6 separate regions of the Homo sapiens genome follow, and regions 1, 2, 4, 5 and 6 are each reported to be linked to region 3. Evidence: microRNA targets listed by miRTarBase, many of them from high-throughput screens and not tested one by one. Region 3 holds a microRNA gene; each other region holds the end of a gene's coding sequence. Distances are from middle to middle.
What was found. The annotated mature microRNA hsa-miR-6836-5p reads CGCAGGGCCCUGGCGCAGGCAU and lies in region 3 at 2,635-2,656, shown strand. An mRNA with a match to its seed (bases 2 to 7 or 8) in the 3' UTR can be bound and repressed. Matches are read on the target gene's strand: a 7mer-m8 pairs with bases 2 to 8, a 7mer-A1 pairs with bases 2 to 7 and ends in A, and an 8mer does both.

Region 1 (4,085 bases), not on the chromosome of region 3:
GCGGGGGGGGGGGGGTGCGGCGAGGGTGGTCTCCAGGGTACTGACCTGCTCCGTGTCTTGCAGAGAGCGCCTGCTCGCTGTGCCCCCGGGTTATGACGACCCCCAATAAAGGAAACAAGGCCTTGAAGGTGAGTGGGCAGGGACAGGAGCCTGTGGGCTGGGGTCGGGGGGCACAGTGGGCGTGCCCGCTTGGCCTGTGACCACCTGCACTGTGCCCCAGGTGAAGCGGGAGCCGGGTGAGAATGGCACCAGCCTGACGGATGAGGAGCTGGTGACCATGTCGGTGCGGGAGCTGAACCAGCACCTGCGGGGCCTGTCCAAGGAGGAGATCGTCCAGCTGAAGCAGCGCCGGCGCACGCTCAAGAACCGCGGCTACGCTGCCAGCTGCCGCGTGAAGCGGGTGACGCAGAAGGAGGAGCTGGAGAAGCAGAAGGCGGAGCTGCAGCAGGAGGTGGAGAAGCTGGCCTCAGAGAACGCCAGCATGAAGCTGGAGCTCGACGCGCTGCGCTCCAAGTACGAGGCGCTGCAGACCTTCGCCCGGACGGTGGCCCGCAGCCCCGTGGCGCCAGCCCGGGGCCCCCTTGCCGCCGGCCTGGGGCCCCTCGTCCCAGGCAAGGTGGCCGCCACCAGCGTCATCACAATAGTAAAGTCCAAGACGGATGCCCGATCGTAGGGACGCGCGTCTGCCCAGGCGGGTCTTTGCGGGGCCACTAGGCACATGGCGAATTTGGCTGCCCTGTCCCTCTGTTTCCTTCTCTTCTCTTTCCTCCCTCTCTTCCCCACCCTTCTCTCTTCCCTGCAAAGCACAACCTGTACCCCAGGGGCGCCGGGCTGAGCCCCTTTGATCTCGTCATTGTCGTCGTGTGTTTTGTATGTTGGGATTGGTCAGTTCGGCGGTGACGTGGGGTCGCCCCAACCCCTTTTGTACCAGGGCCATGCAGGCTTGGAGTCCAGAGTTGGTGCTGTGGGAACGGACTAGAGAGAGTTGCGGGAGAGAGAAGGAGCAGGCACGCTGGGCCTCGCGTGTCCCCGAGCAGTGAGGGTCCCAGTGTTCCCTCCACTCCCGAGTGGCCACAGGCTCGCGGGCTGGGAAGGATTCACTCTCTTTAGCCCCAGGGGAGCAGCTCAGCTTAGCCCAGCATGAAGAGATGGGCTCTGCTCTGAGAGTAGGGCGGGCTTGAAGGCCCTGATGGGTGGACCACCAGCCTGGGCGCAGTGGTGCTGGGGGCGTGCAGCTGGGCCCAGGGGCTGTGCACTCAGGCCTGACCCGTTGCACTGAACAAGACCAAATCTCTGGTTGTGCGCTTAACGTGAGGGTGGGTCCAGTGTGCCCTGCGATGGGTCCCGTGTCACTGTTTACATGACCTATTTGTGTGGTTATATAGCCCTTTATTTAAAAGAGAGAAGTTCCTTTTACAAAGTTATTAAATTAATTATATGTTTAAAAGTTAAAGAAAAAAGAGCTGCAGAGTATTTATAAAACTGTCTTTTAGAAAAAAAACAAGCAAGAAGACCATTTGACCATATGAATGGAAAAGGGAAGAAAGTATAATAGAAACTTTGCTAGTTAAAAAAAAAAGAAAAAAAAAGAAAAAAAATCCCTTTCTTGTAAACTTACGGACACCTCTTTGTGGCTGTTGGAGTTTAGTTTTTATATACACAGAGTTATCAGACATTATTTATAAAACTTAGTTTAAAAAAAAGACAAAAAAAAAAAAGCCAAGCCGTGAGCCGACCAGAAGGCCGTCCTCTTTGATATCTTTTGCAATTGTACCGAAAGTGACTTACTCCTCTGCCCTTCCTGCTTCCGTCTCTTGCCGGTGCCGTGGTGTCGTCCGTGCCTGGTGAGGTTTTGTGCAGCGGTAAAGTGCTGGTGCTTCTGGTGACCTTTGACCTGTGGGTGTCACTTCTTGTGTCTGTTTTCCCGTGTTCGTTTTTTGGGTTTAGTTGTGCTTTTGCTTCTGCTGGCTTGCTGGACCTGGGCTGGGGTGCCAAGTGGCGCCTGCTGCGTCAGAGCTCAAGGAATCTGTGCCCACCACCAGCTCCTGGTCCGTAGGAGGTGAGACATGGGGTTCTGTCATGCCCCCCTCCACTGAGCCTTGGCTACATCTGTGTCTAGGGCTTGGGCTGATCTAGTGGCGGGGTAGGTGAAACTGGGGTCCCTTGGGGCGCCCCACGCTGCTTCCACACCCACCACCTCTGGCCTTGGGTGGTGGCATTACAGGGATGAGGGAGTCACTGTGGGTGGCCACAGGGCTATGGCCAAGCGTTCCCTGGCCGTCTTCCTCTGGCCTCAGCTTTGTTCCTATAGGCTGCCCGCGCCGTGGGCTGCAGGTCTCGCCGCCCGCTTGATCCCTGAGGTGTTTCCATGCTGCGGGTGGTGCTTCCAGGCAGAGTGGGTGGGGGCCCACCGGGCACCGCCCTTTCTTCCTTGTCCCTGCCTCACTCTGAGAGCCTTGGGGGTCTCCACCAGTGCAGACAAGGGCTACAGTCTCCAGGGCCGGGTCTTGTCCCTCTTCTCCGCTGGTCCACGCTGGCAGCTCTTGGCTTCGGGCCTGCCTTCTGCCTCCCTTTGGGATCTGTGTCTTCCAGGGATCAGCTGCTTGGCTTCTGCTGGAGGTGCCTCCCTGTGGGGGCGCAGCCTGCCTCCTGCTCTCAGTTCCTCGCCAGAGGCTGCTGCCCTTCCTGGCTGGGCTCAGGAGGCTCCTTGTAGGCATATGATGGGGAGGGGGTGCCCCTACCCACCTCCAAGAGGCTACAGCCCTGTGTCTGGCCATGTGAGCCCTGGCCTTTCACCGGGTTGCTGGTTTCTTTTCTGTGGGGCCCAGACTTCTGTAAAGCACACAGATGTGGGTAAGATGAAAAACTGTGGCCCAACAGGGCTTAACCCTATGGATGGTGGGATTTTTATCCAATAGTTTGGCCTGGTGTGCCCACAGGATGGGAACAGGGAGGCACCATCAACACTTGTCATGTTAATGAGCTTTTCTTTGCTCGAGGTGTTCAGAGACAAGTCCTGTGTCTACCTGCGTCAGCCTGAAAATGGAAATATTGGCTGTTGACTCTTGTCATTTAGTGACTTCATCCCCCTCCCCTCAGTCTGATCTTGTCTAAGTAGAATCCAGGCGTTAGTTGGAATCATATCATAAGTATCCATGAAGAAAACGTCATGATCTGCCTCGGAGTGGGGAGAAACAGGCCCTCCTTGTCCTTGTGCAGCCCCCACTTTTGTCCTGGCTGTGGGTGGCCATCCATTTTGAGCACCTCTGCCAGGCTGCAGACCTGGAGGCGAAGGGAGTGTGGAAGAGGAGGGTGTAAGGGTCGACGCGTGCTGAATGGGAGGTGCAGGTCCTCGGTGCGTTGGCAGAAGAGGCTTCTGGAGTTTCGAGGCCATACCTCCTTTCAAGAGCTTTGGATTTGGGGCGACTTCCCTGGGTCTAGGGGAGTGTTCCTGTCCCCTGTCAGGTCAGCCCTGCGGAGCCACTCCACCCCTCTTCCCCTTCCCCTGGATTTCCTGACATAGATGGTGTGTTCATGTGCAGGTGTGAGTGTGCTGTCCTTCTGATCTCTGTTGATCCCGCTTTCCTACTGAGAGGGTGGTGGAGAGGGTGGTGGTCTCTTCTCACCTCAGTTTTTCTGACACAGCGAATCGAGGGCTTTGGCCAAGGCCAGGTCTCTCAAACTTGTCCGCCAAGTAAACCATGATATATGTCTTCCCTTCCACCTTAACTTTGCCCCAACTCCTCTTTTATCCTAACATGGACGCTCAGATTTCAGAGGAATACCCAGCAGGGACAGGTCAGCTCTCACCAGGAGAGTGAGGCCCCTGGCTGCTGCTCGGGGTGGCACTGGTGTTGCTGGCTCAGCTCTTGGTGCATGTTTCAGATATGTGTGTACACTTCTGACTGGTGATCAGGGCCCGGCCCACGGCCCTGAGCGGCTGCAGCCTGCTTTGGGACGATGGTCAGGTCCCATGTTGTCCCTGCTGCCTCCCTCTGGAGTGGCCACTTGGCCAAAGCGCCCATCCACATCTGGAAAGTCGGAGCCGCAGCCTGCTGCACCGTTTCCGCTCTGGGATCTTGTGA
Region 2 (4,079 bases), not on the chromosome of region 3:
GATCTGGGAAAACCCCTAGTGATGCAAGCAAATATGGGGGATGCCAGGTACCAGTGGGGTTAGCTGCATCCCACTCCTGGCTGAAACCTATTTTAGAGACAGGCCTGCATCAGGGACCCTGGGTAACGGAAAGTACCTTTTTCCTTGCAGGCCACAGAGATGCTGGTTCACAATGCCCAGAACCTCATGCAGTCTGTGAAGGAGACTGTGCGGGAAGCTGAAGCTGCTTCAATCAAAATTCGAACAGATGCTGGATTTACACTGCGCTGGGTTAGAAAGACTCCCTGGTACCAGTAGGCACCTGGCTGAGCCTGGCTGGCACAGAAACCTCTACTAAAAAGAAGGAAAATGATCTGAGTCCCAGGAGCTGCCCAGAGTTGCTGGGAGCTGAAAAATCACATCCTGGCCTGGCACATCAGAAAGGAATGGGGGCCTCTTCAAATTAGAAGACATTTATACTCTTTTTTCATGGACACTTTGAAATGTGTTTCTGTATAAAGCCTGTATTCTCAAACACAGTTACACTTGTGCACCCTCTATCCCAATAGGCAGACTGGGTTTCTAGCCCATGGACTTCACATAAGCTCAGAATCCAAGTGAACACTAGCCAGACACTCTGCTCTGCCCTTGTTCCCTAGGGGACACTTCCCTCTGTTTCTCTTTCCTTGGCTCCCATTCACTCTTCCAGAATCCCAAGACCCAGGGCCCAGGCAAATCAGTTACTAAGAAGAAAATTGCTGTGCCTCCCAAAATTGTTTTGAGCTTTCCATGTTGCTGCCAACCATACCTTCCTTCCCTGGGCTGTGCTACCTGGGTCCTTTTCAGAAGTGAGCTTTGCTGCTACAGGGGAAGGTGGCCTCTGTGGAGCCCCAGCATATGGGGGCCTGGATTCATTTCCTGCCCTTCCTCAGTTTAATCCTTCTAGTTTCCCACAATATAAAACTGTACTTCACTGTCAGGAAGAAATCACAGAATCATATGATTCTGCTTTTACCATGCCCCTGAGCAATGTCTGTGCTAGGGAAACTTCCCGTCCCATATCCTGCCTCAGCCCGCCAAGGTAGCCATCCCATGAACACACTGTGTCCTGGTGCTCTCTGCCACTGGAAGGGCAGAGTAGCCAGGGTGTGGCCCTGCCATCTTCCCAGCAGGGCCACTCCCGGCACTCCATGCTTAGTCACTGCCTGCAGAGGTCTGTGCTGAGGCCTTATCATTCATTCTTAGCTCTTAATTGTTCATTTTGAGCTGAAATGCTGCATTTTAATTTTAACCAAAACATGTCTCCTATCCTGGTTTTTGTAGCCTTCCTCCACATCCTTTCTAAACAAGATTTTAAAGACATGTAGGTGTTTGTTCATCTGTAACTCTAAAAGATCCTTTTTAAATTCAGTCCTAAGAAAGAGGAGTGCTTGTCCCCTAAGAGTGTTTAATGGCAAGGCAGCCCTGTCTGAAGGACACTTCCTGCCTAAGGGAGAGTGGTATTTGCAGACTAGAATTCTAGTGCTGCTGAAGATGAATCAATGGGAAATACTACTCCTGTAATTCCTACCTCCCTGCAACCAACTACAACCAAGCTCTCTGCATCTACTCCCAAGTATGGGGTTCAAGAGAGTAATGGGTTTCATATTTCTTATCACCACAGTAAGTTCCTACTAGGCAAAATGAGAGGGCAGTGTTTCCTTTTTGGTACTTATTACTGCTAAGTATTTCCCAGCACATGAAACCTTATTTTTTCCCAAAGCCAGAACCAGATGAGTAAAGGAGTAAGAACCTTGCCTGAACATCCTTCCTTCCCACCCATCGCTGTGTGTTAGTTCCCAACATCGAATGTGTACAACTTAAGTTGGTCCTTTACACTCAGGCTTTCACTATTTCCTTTATAATGAGGATGATTATTTTCAAGGCCCTCAGCATATTTGTATAGTTGCTTGCCTGATATAAATGCAATATTAATGCCTTTAAAGTATGAATCTATGCCAAAGATCACTTGTTGTTTTACTAAAGAAAGATTACTTAGAGGAAATAAGAAAAATCATGTTTGCTCTCCCGGTTCTTCCAGTGGTTTGAGACACTGGTTTACACTTTATGCCGGATGTGCTTTTCTCCAATATCAGTGCTCGAGACACAGTGAAGCAAATTAAAAAAAAAAAAAAAAAAAATCCCTGAATGATGATTAGAGACATCACCGCTAAAAAACTACATTTATAAGCTAGGATTTGTTATATGCAAATATTTTCTGCCTCTTCTTTTGTTCTGTTTAAAACAATAAAATGCATTTGTATAAAAAATGCTTTAAATGATGGATATGTTACTTTAGCAAGAACTTTTAGGTCAGGTTTCTCCTTTGTTTTGATGAATAGTCAATGAAACTAATCCTCAAGATCTGGAAACTAAAGATTTTTATTTAATCCAAATGTTGCACTGGAAGAAGAAATCAACAGTGGTATATTTACTTAACAAGGATGTGTGTAATACAAGACAACCCTGGGGATTACACACTTGAAGGAATGGAAGTGGCAAAGGTTAACAGGCAGAAAGCAGCTGGATGAAACAGTTTATTTTCATCTTAGAAGATTCTAGCTATCTGTGGAGACCACCACTGTTCCCCGAAAAGCTAAAGTTGTTAAGTTTGTAGGAGTACCACAGGTCCTTCCCCCTGCTGCAAGACAGAGACTTGCTCTGTTGCCCAGGCTGCAGTGCAGTGGTGCAATCTCAGCTCACTGCAACCTCTGCCTCCCGGGTTCAAGCAATTCTCCTGCCTCAGCCTCCCATGTAGCTGGGATTACAGGTGTGCGCCACCATGCCTGGCTAATTTTTGTATTTTTAGTAGAGATGGAGTTTCACCATGTTGGCCAGGCTGGTCTCGAACTCCTGACCTCAAGTGATCCGCCCACCTTGACCTCCCAAAGTGCTGGGATTACAGGTGTGATCCACCACGCCCGGCCACACAGGTCCATTTTTCATATTCCAAAGCCCAGTATAGAATAAATAGGGTTTTCAGGGATCCACCAGGGCTATAAAACAGAGTTAGCTTTTGGGGACATAGTCCTCTTCTTCCTTAAAGAAACACTGACTAAAATAGTAGGAGCAGGTTTTTAGAGTAGAGTTGGGACATCACTTTTTCCCTGATTTTCTAGATCTGAAAGGGGTAACATGTCATTAAAGGGTGATGATATTGATATTTAGTGTTGCCAACTGCTATTATCACTGCTTTATCTTGGAAAGTTGCCGACTATAAAGACAGATTCCAGCCTGCTTGAGTTAAGGGAAAGGCCAAGGCTGCTACTGAATTAGCAGTTTCTAAAACTGTCTTGTTTTTGCCATTTACCATATGTTCACTGGTGCTGCCTTCCTGCTGTAGTATAATCATTTTCTCAAATCAGTTGCCTCTCAGGACAAGATCAGCATTTTCCTAGGGTCCTTCTGTAGCACCACTTAAGGAATGAACCTATCACAGGAACTCCCTTTGAATAAAATGATGGTGACTCCCACACGCAGGAAAGAATCATTTACTTCATTTGCTCTTGATATACTCCCTTATGAATTTAGAACAAGTGATCCAGGATTAGCTGTAACTCTGTGCTTGAAAAATATTTTACTACTACTAAGTATTCAGAAATCTTTGTTATCAGTAGGTGGTGGTAGTGATAGGGAAGGGAGCTTTGATCACTAATCTCTCAGACTGTGGCCAGAATGGTGATGCTTAAGCCAAGTATGAATGGCTATTAACATACTGAGGTTAGGGAAGGAGTACTGAGAAGTGCTTTGCAGCAACACTCGCAGCTTGTGTGATGATGCAGAAGAAAATCTGATCATGTTCACCCTGCTTTGACAATGAGCCTTGCCCATTGGAGAATGTTCAATCAATAGTAGACCTAAAAAAAATCAACTTGTTGCTTTCATCTTTTTATTGATAGCACAGCCAGAGCTACCAAAATGATTTACTGGATTCTAGCAAATTAATAAATACAGTAATTTGATTGTAAAAGGAAACATTCTACTTGGACATTTTAGTAGAAATTGCTAGAGGGAAGGAGCTCCTGGCGTACATTCTACTTGGATAGAAGAGAAGATAGCAC
Region 3 (4,085 bases):
AGAGAATCGCTTGAACCTGGGAGGCGGAGGTTGCAGTGAGCTGAGATCATGCCACTGCACTCCAGCCTGGGTAACAGAGCAAGACTCTGTCTCAAAAAAAAAGCCAAATCTGTAAACTTTCTGAAAACATTATGAGATTTACACACAGACCTACCTACCTTCCTTCCTTCCTCTCTCTCTCTTTCTTTCTCTCTCTCTTTCTTTTTTCCTTTTTTGTTTTTTTTAGTTCATCAGCTATCATAGTGTTAGCGTATTTTATGTGTGGCTCAAGACAATTCTTCTTCTTCCAATGTGGCCCTGGGAAGCCAAAACATTGGACACCCCTGGTTTAGGGCCTTGTGCAGCACTGAACCACAGATGGGACTTGGTGACAAATGACACGAACAGAGGGACCCCTGAACTCCCCCTCTTCTGCTGGGCCAGGGAATAAGCCTACATTCTCCTGAGCCCCTGCCTGGTCAGGTGGGAGCTGGGCACCTGCGGTCAGCTGGCGTTTTCTCTCTAGAGTTTTAGAAACTCTTAACACACCTCTTCTCCTGGCACATTTTACTGGCTGGAATCCCAGCTGCTTTGGGTGTGGGGTTGGTGGCCGGGGAGCCTCCGGGTTCAGTCGGCCTGAGGTCTGGAGGGTGGAAGGGGTATCTTAGGGTCCCCTGGGGTGCAGCAGGGCCTGGGCGGCACCCCTGGCTCCCATTCCAGGGCTGTGTCCCGTAAAACTCGTTCCATCCACTTCTGCCTGCCCCGTCTCCTGCTGAGCTTGACGTGCAGTGCGTGGGGTGAGCTTTTCACCCCCTACCACGGGTGGAGCCCGAGGAATCGTGGAGGGAGCTTGGTCTCCCCGAGGTGCTCAGTGAGCTGTGGGGACTGAGGGCGTGAGCTGTGGGGACCGGAGCCCTTCAGGGCCCGGGTGTGACTGAAGGCGTCAGTGTCGGGGGTTTCCCCAGGATACCTGCCATCGGCCTGGCTTGGTTGCGGTTGTGGCTGGGGGGTCTGTGGTGAGCTGTGCAGGTCAGGGGTGGATGGGCTGCCGCTTCCGCTGCCTTCCCCAGACCCCTGCTGTCTCCAGAGCTTGGATGCTCCCCTCAGTGGCAGCTGGAGCCCAGGGCTTTGGACCGACTCTTCATACCGCAGATGCCTCTGAGCACCGTGTGTTCGGGCCGTGTGCACTGTGCCTGGCCTGCGCCCCCACCGAGGGCTGCTACTGGTGTAAGCCGGGGAGGCCGAGGCAGCGTCTGGGTGGGGTTCGCCCGTGGGGGCTGCTTCGTGTCCCCAGGTGCTGTGGTGACTCTGGGAGCAGGGCATCCCTCTGCCGTGATGGGGCCCCTGTTCCACTCCAGGGCTGCCCGCCGTTTGCTGTGCACTCACTGCCCTGTTGGGCTCTCTCTGTGGCTGTGCTGCCCGCACAGAGCCTTGTGTGAGGGCCGAAGAGGAGCCTGTGTCCACCGCTGCCCCCACCGCCGAGTGTGGTGCTTCTGCGTGCAGCCTGGGGCGGCCGCCTCTCTTCCTGGATCAGCAGCACGTCCTTCCTGCAGCTGCTGTCTCTCCTACCTACCCTGCGCCCCCTTCCCTGTGCCCCCTTCCTAGGCCTGCGTTTCTCTCTCCTGTTACTGATGCGGAGACAACACCCTTGTTCTCCTCCGTGCCCCTCCTGGGCGTGCCCGTTTTGCACACGGCTCACAGCGTTATATGGGAACTCGGGTTTTCTGCAGTGCTTGATGGAGCCTTAGGGGTCGGGGGGTCTGGGGCATCTGGCTCTCCCAGCATATGTGTTGGGAGAGTCGCCGGCTTTGCGAAGGCCTGAGAAAGGCAAGGCAGGCCGGGCTGATGAGCAGGAGGGCGGGCAGCTGTCCCGCGGGAACGCAGGCCTTGTTCCCATCAAGACTGCTGGGCCAGGCCCAGCGCGGTGGCTCACGCCTGTAATCCAGCACTTTGGGAGGCCGAGGCGGGCGGATCACGAGGTCTGGAGATCAAGACCATCCTCGCTAACACGGTGAAACCCCGTCTCTACTAAAAAAAGAAATACAAAAAATTAGCCGGGCATGGTGGAGGGCGCCTGTAGTCCCAGCTACTCGGGAGGCTGAGGCAGGAGAATGGCGTGAACCCGGGAGGCGGAGCTTGCAGTGAGCCGAGATCGTGCCACTGCATTCCAGCCTGGGCGACAGAGCGAAGACTCCGACTCAAAAAAAAAAAAAAAAAAAGACTGCTGGGCTCGAAGGCGTGTCCGCCTGGTAATGGGTGGGCTGGTGGGGAAGGGGGCCCCCTGCAGACCTGGCTGGTGGTCCTGGGGAGCCCGTCTGACTCTGGGAGGAAGGAACCGGCCCAGGCCAGGCTTGGGTCTGAGTTCCCGGGCAGGGACCGGGTCCTATGTGCGTCCGCGTGGGTGAGCTCCCCCTCGCCTTCCAGGGTAAGCAGGAAGAGAACGACGTGGTGGAGAAGCTGAACCTCTTCTTGGATCTGCTGCAGTCCTATAAGGTGAGTCTTGGCTGCTCCTTGGCTGGGGGCAGAACTTTCAGGAATGATCTTAGGATCCTTCAAGGGTCTAACTCCTGGGGGACGGAAGAGGAGCTGAGAAGCCAGGGCTGCAGGGGAAGACGGGGCCTTCCGTCTGGCGGGGGTGCTTCCCTCGGCCGGCTCCGCAGGGCCCTGGCGCAGGCATCCAGACAGCGGGCGAATGCCTCCCCCGGCCCCGCAGGACCTGTGCGAGCGGCATGAGAAGGGCGTGTTGCACAAGCACCAGCGGGCCCTGCACAAGTACAGCCTGATGAAGAGGCAGATGATGAGCGCCACCGCGCAGAACCGCGAGCCGGAGTCCGTGGAGCAGCTGGAGTCCCGCATTGTGGAGGTGGGTGGCGGGGCGGCCGAGCAGGCCCGTGGGAGCCTTTCCCCTCCCGGCCATGGTGGGACCCGGAGCCGTCCTGGTGGGCTCCCCTGGGTTGGCTCCTTGTGTCTGGAACAGAGCTGGGGGTGCAGTGGAGGCAGGGAGCTGGCCCGCGTGCCCAGAGCGATGCGGCTCCCTGCACGGTGCTCCCTCCCCGGCCCTCTCTTACCTCGCCACCTTCCAAATGCCTGGTGAAGGCTGAAGGAGAAGGGGCCGCCCTGGCTCAGGGAGCACGCTGGTGTTCGGGCCTTGGTGCTCCCGTCGCCGGCTGGGCCGGGTGCGAAAGGCGGCTGTTTGCTCCGCAGCAGGAGAACGCGATTCAGACGATGGAGCTGCGGAACTACTTCTCCCTGTACTGCCTGCACCAGGAGACGCAGCTCATCCACGTCTACCTGCCCCTCACCTCCCACATCCTCCGCGCCTTCGTCAACTCTCAGATCCAAGGGCACAAGGAGGTGAGTCCGCCCTGCTCCGGCCGCCGTCTCGGCCACGGCCTTTCTTTGTCCCTCCGCCCTTCCTTCAAGCCCGGCAGCGCGGTGGCCGGCCGCCCTAGAGAGGTTCTTTAGTGGAGTTGGGCTCCGCATGGGCCTTGGAACACGGTGCTCGCCCGGATCTTCTAGTCTCCTGTGTAGCCAAAATCAGAATCGTGAGGGTGTCCCTGTGATTCCTGGGGGGCGGAGGGAGGAGCAGACAGGGAGAGTTTGCCTCCTGGAGGGATTTGAGAAGTCGGAGGTAAAGCCCGCAGAGCTCCCGCACCCTGCGGCTGAGAGAAGGTTTCTAGCGCTTCGGAGCGCCGCAGGTGGCTGTTCTTCCAGAGAGCCCTGGCCGGCTTCCTCCAGAGCAGATGGCGGTTCCTTCAGCCTGGGAGAAGAAACGCTCCCAAGGTCCTGGGACAGGCCTCCGTTGATTTCTGGTGGCCAGCTCACTGCAGCACCGCTGGGATTACAGGCGAGCACCTTGTGCCCGGCTGAAATTAAGTTTATTAAGTAGCTGCAAGTAGCTTTCAAGCCATGGTCTGTGGTGTGTGTGGAATGGCACCGAGTGTCTGGGGTGGTCACGAGATTCCACACTGTCCCCGGGAGGTGCTTGGTGCCGTGGGTGCCGTCCAGCACTTTGGGAATGGCAGGCTGGAGGCGGCCGTGGTGGGGCTGGAGAGGCGGTAGACAGCCGCCGTGTTAGGAGCATCACTGTGAGATGGCCAGGGTCT
Region 4 (4,076 bases), not on the chromosome of region 3:
TGCTCTTTCTCCCTCTGTTGCCTCTGGGACCTGGGACCCCCCAGCCTACCCACTCCACCCGCCCTGTTCCTTAGGTGGTAGCCGCCCACTCCACTGAGGAACACAGCAAGGCCCAGGGGCTGCACAGCAGCCAGCAGAGCTTCTTCTCCCTGGGCAGAGAGAAGGCGCTCTGCTCTTAGGGGCTGCCAGGCCTGTTAGAAACCAGGCGGCTCAGTGCCACTGCCCTTGTCATTTGCTGCAGAAATGCATGGAAATGAAGAACACCATCCTGGCCCGGCAGAAGGAGATGCACAGCTCCCTGGAGAAGGTAAAACAGCTGATTCGCCTCATCCACGGCATCGACCTCTCCAAACCTGTAGACTCTGAGGCCACTGTGGGGGCCATCTCCAATGGCCCGGACTGCACCCCCCCTGCCAATGCCGCCACCTCCACGCCGGCCCCTTCCCCCTCCTCCCAGAGCTGCACAGCGAACTGTAACCAGGGGGAAGAGACTAAATAACAGAGCCCCTCTAGGAGAAGCCACGGGATCCCGGCGGCAAGGAGAACAGAACACTGAAGACTCTAGAAAAGCAAAGCCGGATTTCTGGAAAGTGCAGAATTCTTTTGGTTCTTTGGTTCCAGAGAGAGAGAAGATGCTTGTGCCAGGTGGCACCAGAGTTTGCCAATTGATCCTTCTTATTCTGTGTGTACATGCAAAGATTGGACCATGTTACATGAAATAGTGCCAGCTGGAGGTTCTTTGCCAGCACCATGCCAAGTGAAATAATATATTTACTCTCTCTATTATACACCAGTGTGTGCCTGCAGCAGCCTCCACAGCCACGATGGGTTTGTTTCTGTTTTCTTGGGTGGGGAGCAGGGACGGGCGGAGGGAGGAGAGCAGGTTTCAGATCCTTACTTGCCGAGCCGTTTGTTTAGGTAGAGAAGACAAGTCCAAAGAGTGTGTGGGCTTTCCTGTTTCTAAACTTTCGCTACTATAAAACCAAAAAAAGGAATTGAGATTTCACCAACCCCAGTGCCCAGAAGAGGGAAGGGGAGTGGCTGGAGGGAGCAGGGGGTGGGACAGTGTATCAAATAAGCAGTATTTAATCACCTCTGGCGGGGGCCTCGTGCAAGGGGAGACTGACACCAAGAACAGCCAGTAGGTTCTTCTCCCCTGCACTCTGCTCCCTGCGCGGTAACCCCACCACTCCTGAAGCCTGCCCAGTCTCCTTCCTTCCCTGCTTGGTGAGTCGCGCATCTCCGTGGTTATCCCGCTGTCTCCTCTCCAAGAACAAGCAGAGCCCGGGCCACTGGCCCTTGCCCAAGGCAGGGAAGAAGGATGTGTGTGTCCAGGAAGGAAAAAAAGGTGGATCAGTGATTTTACTTGAAAACAAGCTCCATCCCTTTTCTATATTTATAAGAAGAGAAGATCTTGAGTGAAGCAGCACGCGACCCAGGTGTGTGTGAATTGAATGGAGACGTTTCTTTTCTCTTTCTTTAATTTTTGTTTTTGTTCTTTTTTTCTTTAAGGAAAGTTTTATTTTACTGTTCATTTTACTTTCTTGGTAACAAAAACTAAAATAAGGAATAGAAAAGCTGTTTTTCAGGCTGACAGTCCAATTAAGGGTAGCCAAGACCTTGCATGGTAGAGTAGGAATCATAGTGTCAGTGAGGTCCCGTGAGTCTTTGTGAGTCCTTGTGTCATCGTTCGGGCACTGTTTTTTTATGCAAGGGCAAAAATCTTTGTATCTGGGGAAAAAAAACTTTTTTTTAAATTAAAAAGGAAAATAAAAGATATTGAGGTCTTCCTAGTGTTACTTAAATTAAGATCAAGGTAAGAAACATTGTAAAAAAAAATTACAAAAGTGCTATTTGTTTCCTAAAAACAGTGATTTCTATTAAAAAGGTGTCAGAACTGGAGAAAATGCCGTGTAGTTATAATTTTTTAGCACAGACCCTGCTGATCACGATGACATTTTGCCGTGTGTGTGTCTCTAGACTGGTGGGCCAGTCTCCTTGAAGGACAGAGGCGGAGCTCCCCACCCTTCTCTCTCCTCAGAAAAGACCGTGCTCTCTTCTTGGTGCAGGGATCTTGTCTCCTGTTGTGAAGCCCAAATGGAAGCGTGGATGGTATCAGGGCCCTACCCGTGGTCTTCTCAGATTCTGCTAGAGCAAAAGGCTGGTGCCTAAATAAGATCCCTTCCTTTGGTGCTGCTTTTGGTCTTTCAGCCACCAGCATTATGAGTGCCTGGGGGACACCTCCGAGGGAACTGGCCAGCGGAGCTCTGTGGTGCGCACGCACCCTGGCCGTGACAGGAGGGTGCGGGAGTACAGGCTGGCTGCATCAGCCCTTGGTGCTTAGAACAGAGGAGGAGTGACATGTTTTGAGGGTACGTCTCTGAGACAGAGCCCCAGCGTGGCCTTCGCTCTGTCTTGCCTTTGGGGAGAGGTCTGAAGCTCCCACTCCTTTCTCTGCCTGTTGGCTCCAGGCACCAGAAATTTACTCCACTCCACCCACCCACAAGCCTCCTGGGTGACCCTGGGCTAGAATTGCTGCGCTTGCCTCGGCTTGGCCGGTTGTGGCCTCTCCTTGAGAAAACCAGGGTTGTGAAAGACTCAGACCATTCTCTCATCTTGCCTTGTCAGAAGTAAATTGTGTCAGATTTGTGCTCTCGCTGGAGACCTTTGCCCCTTGCGTGCCCCTGGCCGATGGGAGGGCGGTGGAGGCTCTGTACCCTGGCCCTGCTGGAGCATCTCCCCCAAGCCCACTCCAGGCCCTGGGAATGGCCAGAGTCTAGGAGAGGTAGAAACGATCCTATCAGCTTCTCTCCCACCCAATTAGGCCCAGAGAGACAAAGACAGATCTGAAAGCAAATGCAACAGAGAAGAGACACTTCTTAGAGTAAAATGTGTCTCATCTCTATCAGCCATCGCCTTTCATCTTCCCAGGGGCCTCAGAAGAAGGAATTAAGTTAGGCTGAACAGGCCTCAGAGTTAGGCCCTGGCTGCTTGATTGGCTGAGGGGGAAAGAGTTCCCTTTTCTCATTCAGAAACCAAGGTGCTGTGTCTAGTCAGGGAGCCTTGGAGATGCCTGGACTAGTTGGAGGAATCGTTGGCAGAGGATCAGAGACCAGCAGCAGGCTGTCTGCCCTGTCTAGAGCTCTTCCCCTCAACTTGTCTGGGCCCATCTGGGGGTTGCCACACAACACCTAACTTACCTTTTCCTGAAAGAAGTTGGGAAACCATCATCACTAGAGGCCTTTGCTCAGAGAGGAGCTGCCTTAGGAGTCTTGGGTCGGAGGACGGGGCTAGGAATTGACCAGGGCTTTGCCTGCCGCCCTCAGCAGTGTCGGGTACATTCTGACCTCGCCTGCAGCTGGGCTGTGGATTCTTCCTGACATTCAGATGTGAGCTGTTTTGGGAGTCAGCTAGTATGGAGTACGAGATGCAACCCAGCCCCCAAACCTACATTCTGCACTCAAATTCCAAAACACTGCTTTACTGTAAAGAAGAGGCCCCTGGCACCCAATCTCCCTGTCCTTCACTGTCCCCTCAGACCTGGGCGGGGAGGGGGGGGGGCCTGTGACCACCTGAGACATACGCTCGTGACACTGCCCCACCCCAGCCACCTCCACTTGCTTCCTCCTCCTTCCCTCCGCTGCTCTTTCCCCACGGCCCAGAATTTAGCTGCTCTGACAGCCACTTTTGAGACCAGCTGGCTTTGTAGTCACTTCAGAGAGCTGGAGCGGCTGCCCACTGGGCCCTGACTGGGAGTCCCCTGCCAGCTCCTGATCAGGCGCTGCGCCCTGGTGGCAGTGATGACTGGGAGTCCCCTGCCAGCTCCTGTCCAGGCGCTGCATCCTGGTAACAGTGAGGCCATGTTGCTGTCATCTCCACCTCTGCATTCTTGCTGCCTGTGGGTCCTTTTTCTTTCATGGAGCCTGCTGGGTCTTGTCTCACCTGTGCTGAGCTCCTCTGGGGTTTTGATTTCTTCCTTCCTTATCAGGCCCTTTGGGGTAAGCCTGCTGGTTGTACCTGACATAGGGAGGCAGTTAGGGGCAGTCCCTGGTGGGGCCGCCCTGGCAGCCTCCAGC
Region 5 (4,085 bases), not on the chromosome of region 3:
GGAGGGCTTCGGACTGGGTGCCGGGTGTCTCTCTACTAGCAATCAGTATCTGGCCTGAGGACATATTTGAAGTGCTCTGCACCAGAGCCTTCCTAAAAAGAAGAGCCGCTGGATGGAAGATAGAGGATGGCCCCTGTCAGAGAAGGGAACTGTTGGTTCAGAGAGGAAGGCAGGGATTTGGATGGATTCTTCTAGGTCAGAGAAGATTTCTAAAAGTGCTTCCTTTTGAGCCTTTCTCATTCTTATGAAGATGAAATAAAGGTGAAAGAGATCAAACGGAGATACGCAGAAGTTCAAGAAGTCCTCGCCTGGGTACAAAATTCCTCTGCTGGTGTCAGGAGGCCTCCCCCATTTACTGTTGGCCCCTATTTCCTGCCTCATAAGTTTGAGCCAAAATTAGTGAATGGAAATGCAGTCCTCACGATAAATCTTTTAAAAATTCGCTTCTGCTCTCTTGGGATTTCTTGTGGCTTGGGTGTGTGTCCATGTGTTTATGTGGTGGGGAGGGTGAGGACATGCTTGTCAAGCTTCTGTATTAGTAAATTTTGGACACTAAAAATAGAAGAACTATTGAAATACATAATTTGCTTCATGAAATCTCTTTTCCATTAAGGATTGCGTCAGTATTTAAAGAGAATGCTAGAGTTTCTGAAAAAGCAAACGTATGCTGGAAGATTGTGTTCTTATAGATGGGATTCAAGATGCCTTGGGTCTCCTACACCGGGAACAAGGGACAAAAGTCAGCGGTATGCCCAGGAGTGTTCATTCCCACCAAATGTTCTTCCTAACAATGCAATCCACACTTTGCTGGAATAATCTAAGATTATAAACCTATCATTGATTGCCTAAATCACTCGTTACTAAACTGGACCCATGGGTTCTATAAGCTAAAAAAAGGGTTCTTGAAAGAACAATAGGCCCCACTGTGTAAGTTGTATCTTCCCAGTCGCTACTCTTTCAACGCCACACTAGCCATGAGGCGACACGGTATGAACAGGTCAGCCACAACCTTCAAAAGAGCTACTGATCTAAATCACCTTTTCCTTCTGCTGAAGGGAAATTGACCATCAATTCATGTTATGACCTTGGCTTTTAAACTAATTCATTACAGAGCCCCAGCCTCGAAGACCTTTCAAAGTCATGGTTTGATATGTATGAGTCTTTAAATAACTATTTAACAAAGGCAGTTCTCTAGGGTGGTTGAATGGGAGGAGCCTCTTTCTTGAAAGATGATTAAAGGTATCTGAATTATGTAATTATCTCGCCAATACTGTGGACATGTGCAACACATTCATATACTCACAGTTACTAAGGAATTCACAAGTCTCTGCTCTGAGCCCCTTCTTGAGGCAGGTAGAGAAGTAAGGACTGTGAAGCCATTTGAGAGCTAGAGCTGTGGGGTGCATCTCCTGCTTCACCAAAACTGCAGGTGAGAACTGAAATGATGGAATCACTCACCTCGCCTCCGCATCTGTGGGCACACCTGACCAAGAATCCACTGCAAGTCCCTGCCAGCAGGGCCCGATGGGAACACGGGCTCCTCATCTTTGCCTGACAGAGGAAGAGAGGCTAATCTGGAGAGCCAGTGAACCTTCAGGGTGTCTCCAGGGTTGGGGAGGGTCCTTCTGGCCCCAAGCCAATCTCTGCCCTGAGAGCTGGTGTCTCTCCAGCAGAGGCCTTCCAACTGTCACTGGAACAAGACTGAATCCAGTCTCAGAACCTCCACTGTGACTCTCAACTGTATATACTTCCACACAGGTTGTAAGCATGAGCTGACAACTGGTGCCTGTGTTTTTCCTCTCTCCTTTTAAGAGTTGGACTAGTTCTGTGGATGTTACTGTGTGCAAAGGATGAATGTAATGGAAATTCCAATCCTCAAAACAAACAAACAAAAACCAGTGACCTATCTACAGAGGTAAGAAGCAGAAGGGAACAGACTAGGATCAGACAACTCTTGGGGTTTGGAACAGTCTCTCCAGTTACAGCACAGAGCCACCGCACCGACGGATCACCTTCGAGACCCACAGACAGACACAAACACACACACGCGGATTTGGCTTTAAGGCTGCATAGGTGGGAGTCATGGAATCATCATTCCAGCTCATCTTGTTATGTGAAGAGGCCACAGAGGCCCACCCTCCACATGGCAGAGTGTACTGCAGATAAGCCCTTCTCCACGCGCAGTGTCTGCTAAACGTGTTGGCTGCTGCTCTTATAAAAGCCAGTGCTTACATCTGCAGAAGAAAGTTATTTTTTTCATTGTATATAAGAATGAATATTTGTAAATATCAGGAATATTAAAACTAACAATATTTAAAATTAGTTTTCTAGTTGCATTTTAACTGCATGTTGTGCTTTTTACCCGGTGCTCTTCAGTCACTTGCCCCCTCCACTGTTCTCTGACTGTCCAGTTCTTGCCTTCAGTACAAAAGCTGGCCTGGGGAAGGGTTTGGTAGAATCCTGCGGGAATTTGGGTAGGTTTTGAGCACTGCATTCCTTTAAGAATGCTATGCTAATACTAGTGACATACAATAACCCACAATGGCTTATTACCACGATCAGCAACATGGCATTCTTCCGTCATTATTTCTAGGGGCTTCCAAAGCATAAGAAACCACCACCCACACCACTCCCACACGAAGTTCTGTGTAGGCTGGATGTGGGGTGGCTGCTGGGAGCCTCCTGTGAACTGAGCAGCCCTGCAGAACTGAACTAAGCTGTCGAGGAAAGGGGGAGAGGCAATGGGAATATACTGAGGAGTCACATATTTCAACAGTATGCAGAATAACCACCTTGCATTTTAAACAATTTATTGCATAAAATAAGGTATGTATTTGAATATATTTCATGCTATAGTGAAAAAAATCTAAATTACTGAAGAAATTGCACTGCTGGAGGATGAGGGCAGCACTGCATGATACTGGATCCATAAATGCATGTGTTCATTTTCTCATAAACTATGCAGCCTAAGAGTAGCAGAGTAACTCAAAATAACAAGTCAGAAATGCTGGAACTTAATCTTCCCTATCTTATCTTCCATCCAAAAGTCTCCAAAAGCTTCAGCGATGCACTGCTATTTGATGCAAACTCCTGCAACAATAATGACTTTTTTGATTTACGTAAGTTGGTAAAATGTTAGGCTACGTCCCCAAATATCTTTTCTTGGATGCTTCTGGGGACCACTCCAGGATATTCCTTGGGCCTGATTACAATCCACAGGTGAAAAGACAACATACAGAACTTCACGTAAAACAGTTCCCTTGTAAATATTTTCAACATTAAGATAGTGCAACTTTTAAAACACATCATCACAACACAAAGGAGCTCCTTGCACTCATCTAACTTCTCCACTTTATACCTTGGCACACAACACAGGAATTTTGATTCATATTTTTAAAACAAAATAAAAGTTCCACACCTTAGGAGAAAAAGCGAACTGGCTGGTTCTTCCCCACAATAATATATAATAATGCTTCCTTCTTTATTCAGTTAATTATAAAACATGCCATTCTGGCCTCATTTATCTGCAAAGTCTCCTTTCACAATTAAATACATCAAATACCTCTGTGGGTTTTATTTCATGGTATCTTCAAAGCATCCCGTTCTCTGTTTTCCCCTGCCCACACCCCCATCCCAACCCCTGTCCCCAAATAAACACTGTTTGCGGTCAGACCAGATGGAAGTTTGTATCATTTCAGTCTAGTTTGCATGCAATTCCCCTAAAAGGAATCAGAAACAAAGACCGTGTTTGCTCATTTGGTTTTACTTATTTGTACCATGTGAAACTGAACAACACTGTGCGCAGGAGGGGCCCAGCGGCCGCTTCCCTTCTTGGTTTCTTTCTCCAGCTGAAGTGCACGTTGGAAGGAATCAGACCAGGTTCCCAGGCTTCCTATCTTTGCCTTTGATGGGTACTATTGTGCTCTCTGCATTGTTCTGCTGAAACTGCAGTCTGCTGCCCCTGTGTGCGTTGCTGCGCTGGTGATGGAGGAAAGAGGCGCCTGGGTGGTGGCCCATCACCTCGCTGTATGTGGGGGGTGGCCCCTCCATCCTCCCGTTACTGCTGCAGGTGCTTGCACTGATGC
Region 6 (4,085 bases), 140 Mb from region 3:
GGGAGAGTCACATCTTCACCCTCCCCAAATCAGCAGCAGGAAGCCTGGCTATGCACTCCATTAGCGTGCTTTCTCTACAAAGAGAGGCCAGGTGCTGTGAGCATCCCCAAACCCTTGCTCCGTACCCAAGGTTTTTCTCCCCAGCCTGCCATCCCGTATGCCGTTCTTAATTCTACCATTGTGCCCCCGCTCCGACATTCTCCTCCTTTGCCTCCCCTGTTCCCAGTCTCCTCCATCCCCCAAATAAGACACTCACAGTCAGAGGATGCCACCACATTCTGTTTAGTGTCATTGAACACAGCCTGTAGCCTTCTCCAGCATCACATCCCTCCCACTTCCCCAGGCCAAGAGAGATGCTGAAGCCTGGGTGGGGGACTGGCAGTGGGCATTTGAGCCCATGCCCTTGTGTACATAATCTCTAATATTTATATATATTGATATAGAATTCTCTCTATAATATATGTCATAGAATCTCTCTTGGGCCTGGCGTGGGAATGTGACATTAAGAAAACATGCTAAGACTGGCCAGAAAAATGGATATTTCCCAGACCTGGAGGATGGTGTGTGGGATGTATAGGTGAGGTCGTGGAGAAGATAATAAACTCATTCCCCAAGATACCCTCTTCAACACAAGGACAAGAAGGAAGGTGTGTGGTGGGGGAGGGGACAATGGAGGGGGAGGAGTGGAAGATTTGGATTTTCATTTAATAAAGTCAATTGAAAATGAAAGTGCACCCCCCCTCCAAAAAAAGAAAATCATTTAGCAAGAGCAGTTTCATTCACAAGAATATAAAAACAGCCCTGTTCCAGGACTGCTGTAAAACGTGCTGCACAGCCTTAACCCCAAAGGAAAAGCAACCCTTTCCCACCCCGAAACAGCCTCTTCCTGCACATGCCCCTCCCCACCCCCTGAAATAGACGATAAGCAACCCCCATGCACCCTGCCCCCAGCACCAGAAGAGTCCTAAGATGGTCCCAGGCCAGCTCCTCAGTCTCCCTCTTCAGAGCGAGTAGGAGCTCCTTGCAGAAGACAGACCCCCACCTGACTTCCATCTGCAGCAATATGCCAGCACCCTGGGGAAAGCAGGTTCATGTATGAACCCTGCTAGAGTCCTTCAGATCTTTAGTCATCTTTTGTCAGGGACCATTTGGCTTCCTTGGGAAAGGGAAGGAGGAACGAAAGCTGCTGTGGTCTACCTTTCCTAACTCCCCCGGGCCTGAGCAAAAACGAACTGTAATGAATGAACGCACTCACTAGGTGAGCTGTCCACCGTGGTCTGGGGGTATGATATGGGCACTGAGAGGATGAGACGACAGGAAGAGGTGATGTGGGAATAGCACACATTGGAGAAGGTGAGGAACCAGGGACCCCATGGAAGGAAGGTCACATGAACATGCAAAACCCCAGAGCCTGCAGCAGGAGACGGGTGGGGAATAGCTGCCAGGGCGGGCATGCTAGACCACCTCTCAGAGCTCCTGGAAATGAGGTCCTGGGACATGGAGTCAGCACACGTTAGCAAGCACAAGAGGACTCTTCCCCTGTACAGGCAGCATTCGGTTAGGTGACTGCACCTGCCTTGGTTCACCTTGCCTACGCCCATGTTTCCTCCAAAAACCAACCTCAGGATAACCATTGTCCCCCTTCCATGGAAGACACAGAACCCCCTGCCCTGCTTGCATCCCAGAAGTGTGAGTAAGAGAGTATGAACTTGATGGCGGGACAGGACCATAGATGGACAGAAACACCCCAACTCTCAACCTTCTCACTCCAAAATAATAAGTTCTGGGGCCTGGGGGTGAGGGCAAAGTTTGTGCCCAGGGCCAGGAGAGGACAACAGTGCTCCCTTCCAGCAGAGGATGCAAGTGGTAGGACTCCTGACAGAGTGTGGGTAGGACACAGGCCTGGGAGCCGGAGCCTTGGAAGGGCGTGAGGAAAGAAGGAGATAGGGCAGTGAGCCTCTTAGGCCTCTCTCTCCTACCCGAACTCTGCCTGTGCCAAGGGCTGGGGAGGGGCTACCTGGGCAGTGGCAGGGCCAAGTGCTCTCCAACCCCACAGCACCGCTGCTTTGCTCCGCCCATCCTCTGCCTGTGCTCTCACGGTAGTGCTGGGGCGCATATGCTGCTCAGTCCCCACCAGCATGGATGCCAAGTGTGGGAGGGCAAGCTTGTGCCTCACCATACACCATCCTGGAAGGAAGAATCCGCTGATTTTCCTCTCTTCCTCTGGTAGGAGGCCTGGGGAGGCAGGGAGGACAGCTGTGAGGCTGTTTGGGAGTCCTGGGAGGAGCTGAAGAAGGGGCAGAAAGTGCCGAGTGCCCACCCTGGCCCTCAGCTGCAACCCTGCCTGGCTGAGGGAGTGACAGCACCGGACTCCTCCCTCCACTCCACTCAACCCTGAGTGCCCAAGAAGTTATAAAAATGTAGAAAAGGCAAAGAGAAAAGTGTAAACAGCTTCAGAGGACAGGGGTGAATAAGGGGAGACAGCCCTCATGCTCCCCCTGCTGTTGGCGACACCTGCATCCTGCGTTGGTGTATCCAAGATGGGTGTCCCCACACCCTCCTCAGGCTCCCGGAGCAGGGATGGAAGAAAGCTGAAAGGGAAGCAAGAGCTGGAGCAGCCAGCCCTGGCTGGGTCTTTTCCCAGATCCTTAGGATCTTCCTTTTAGCCATGGGATATTAAAGATCCCAGAGCAAGGGGCTGTGTTTGTTCTTAGTCTCCTCAGTGACTCTCTTGTCTCCGGGCAGGCCTTGATAGAAAGAACCACATCCGTGCCCCCTGTAGATCTCAGCTGCCACATCCACCTCCTCCTCGACTCCTGATCTCAGAAGCCAAATGACCTGCTGAGGCAGCCTCTCCACCCTCCCCATGGACGTGCCCTTCAGGCAGCCTCCCCTGCGCCTGTCCAGCCATGTCCAACAGCCCCTGAGGTCTGTTCTCTCAGTAGGGATGAGCTGGGGCCACAGCCAGAGAAAACAGAGTTGGGAAAAGCAAGAGTGAAATGGAGAAAGGAGGCATTCAGACAGCAGAGTTACAGCTCCTGGAAGACGAAATCGGGGCGTGAAGAACTGAGATCCAGTCTTGAGCACAGCTGCGCTGCCCCCGTCCTCAGGGTGCACACACTGGAGGCTTTGTCGGCACAGACCCAGAAGCCCACAGCCCAGGTCCTTCTCCACAGCCACACCAAGCTCACGGCCATCTAGTTGCCCAGGTCTCAGTTCCCAGGCCTGTGGGTTTCTAGAGTGTAAGCCTGGATAAAATCCCATCCTGGTCCTCCATTTCCAGGAGAGGACTGGAAGCTCCTGGGTTCCCCAATGTTGTCTGCCCAGTTTCAGCTGTACTGCTGGGGGGAGGGAGGGTATGGGTCACAGCCATGGCCCTCAGGTGGGAGTGGAAGGCAGGGCATTGGGGGAGGAAACTAGTTGTTGGCCTCGCCTTCCTCCTCATCAAAGGACTGCACACCTGAGGATGTGACGTCAGACACCTTCCGGCTGAGAGCGGTAGACATCTCAGGGTCTTCTCGTGGGGAAAGTGACTCCAGGTCCCGGCATCCCGCATCCTCTTCCTCCTCAGGTGCCAATGGCCTCTTCTCCTCCTCAGCAGGGCCCCTTGCCAGGTCCACTGCGCCTACCCCCGGAGCCCAGTCAGTGTCTCCCCCCAGCAAAGGTGGAGGCTCCAGAGCAGAGTATCCTGAAGCTGGTTGGGAAGGTCCCATTTCATGCAAGCTGGGTTGTGAGTCATCAAATGCAGGCCCAAGATAGGATCCTGTGGCCGGAGAGGCAATGAGGGACTGATCGCTGGCTTCCCAGGCATCTGACGACCCCAGACAGTACATACCCTGGGACACGTAAGAGTGAGGCCATCCATCCATGGGTGCTTGAGCCAGGGCATCTGGAAAAAGAATCATGGAGGTCAGTGGGGCCACAGAATGTCAAGGGCAGGAATGACAGCACAGACAGCACAAGAGACAGCTAAGAGACAGCACAGAGAACTGGCAGTAAGACACAGAGTGCACAGTGAGTAGGGAGGACAATGGGAAAGCTGAGATGGACAAGGAAGTCTTAAAAGAACGGAGCTGAGTGGAGGC

Region 1: the mRNA of MAFG is a reported target of hsa-miR-6836-5p. Seed matches in the 3' UTR shown: 7mer-A1 at 795-801, 7mer-m8 at 1,330-1,336 and 7mer-m8 at 3,470-3,476.
Region 2: the mRNA of VCL is a reported target of hsa-miR-6836-5p. Seed matches in the 3' UTR shown: 7mer-m8 at 1,131-1,137 and 7mer-A1 at 1,552-1,558.
Region 4: miRTarBase lists PHF21A as a target of hsa-miR-6836-5p. Seed matches in the 3' UTR shown: 7mer-A1 at 1,155-1,161 and 7mer-m8 at 2,722-2,728.
Region 5: the mRNA of LDLRAD4 is a reported target of hsa-miR-6836-5p. Seed matches in the 3' UTR shown: 7mer-m8 at 1,515-1,521.
Region 6: the mRNA of FAM131B is a reported target of hsa-miR-6836-5p. Seed matches in the 3' UTR shown: 7mer-m8 at 3,396-3,402 and 7mer-m8 at 2,028-2,034.

Annotation. Positions count from the first base shown.
Region 1 is chr17:81,919,193-81,923,277 of GRCh38, reverse strand. MAFG (MAF bZIP transcription factor G) reads left to right here. Exons shown (of 3, transcript NM_002359.4): 2 at 64-128; 3 at 221-4,085. The coding sequence starts at 93. The coding sequence ends at 673. It overlaps MAFG-AS1 (MAFG antisense RNA 1), which reads right to left and starts at 379. Exons shown (of 3, transcript NR_186500.1): 1 at 46-379. RefSeq lists an enhancer at 1-369.
Region 2 is chr10:74,117,873-74,121,951 of GRCh38, forward strand. It overlaps VCL (vinculin), which reads left to right. Exons shown (of 22, transcript NM_014000.3): 22 at 151-2,297. The coding sequence ends at 297. It overlaps AP3M1 (adaptor related protein complex 3 subunit mu 1), which reads right to left. Exons shown (of 9, transcript NM_012095.6): 9 at 2,383-4,079. Among named protein-coding and RNA genes, the nearest start is that of AP3M1, 31 kb to the right of the region's middle.
Region 3 is chr7:2,256,122-2,260,206 of GRCh38, reverse strand. MIR6836 (microRNA 6836) reads left to right here and starts at 2,630; the gene lies at 2,630-2,692. SNX8 (sorting nexin 8) reads left to right here. Exons shown (of 11, transcript NM_013321.4): 8 at 2,404-2,472; 9 at 2,693-2,842; 10 at 3,184-3,333. RefSeq lists enhancers at 746-815, 1,326-1,415, 736-1,515, 1,516-2,295.
Region 4 is chr11:45,930,391-45,934,466 of GRCh38, reverse strand. PHF21A (PHD finger protein 21A) reads left to right here. Exons shown (of 19, transcript NM_001352027.3): 19 at 242-4,076. The coding sequence ends at 499. Among named protein-coding and RNA genes, the nearest start is that of LARGE2, 9.8 kb to the right of the region's middle. RefSeq lists an enhancer at 3,880-3,969.
Region 5 is chr18:13,645,443-13,649,527 of GRCh38, reverse strand. It overlaps LDLRAD4 (low density lipoprotein receptor class A domain containing 4), which reads right to left. Exons shown (of 7, transcript NM_001378100.1): 7 at 1-4,085. The coding sequence ends at 3,871. Among named protein-coding and RNA genes, the nearest start is that of MIR4526, 36 kb to the right of the region's middle. RefSeq lists an enhancer at 1-470.
Region 6 is chr7:143,353,134-143,357,218 of GRCh38, forward strand. FAM131B (family with sequence similarity 131 member B) reads right to left here. Exons shown (of 7, transcript NM_001031690.3): 7 at 267-3,889. The coding sequence ends at 3,417. Among named protein-coding and RNA genes, the nearest start is that of FAM131B-AS1, 6.5 kb to the right of the region's middle.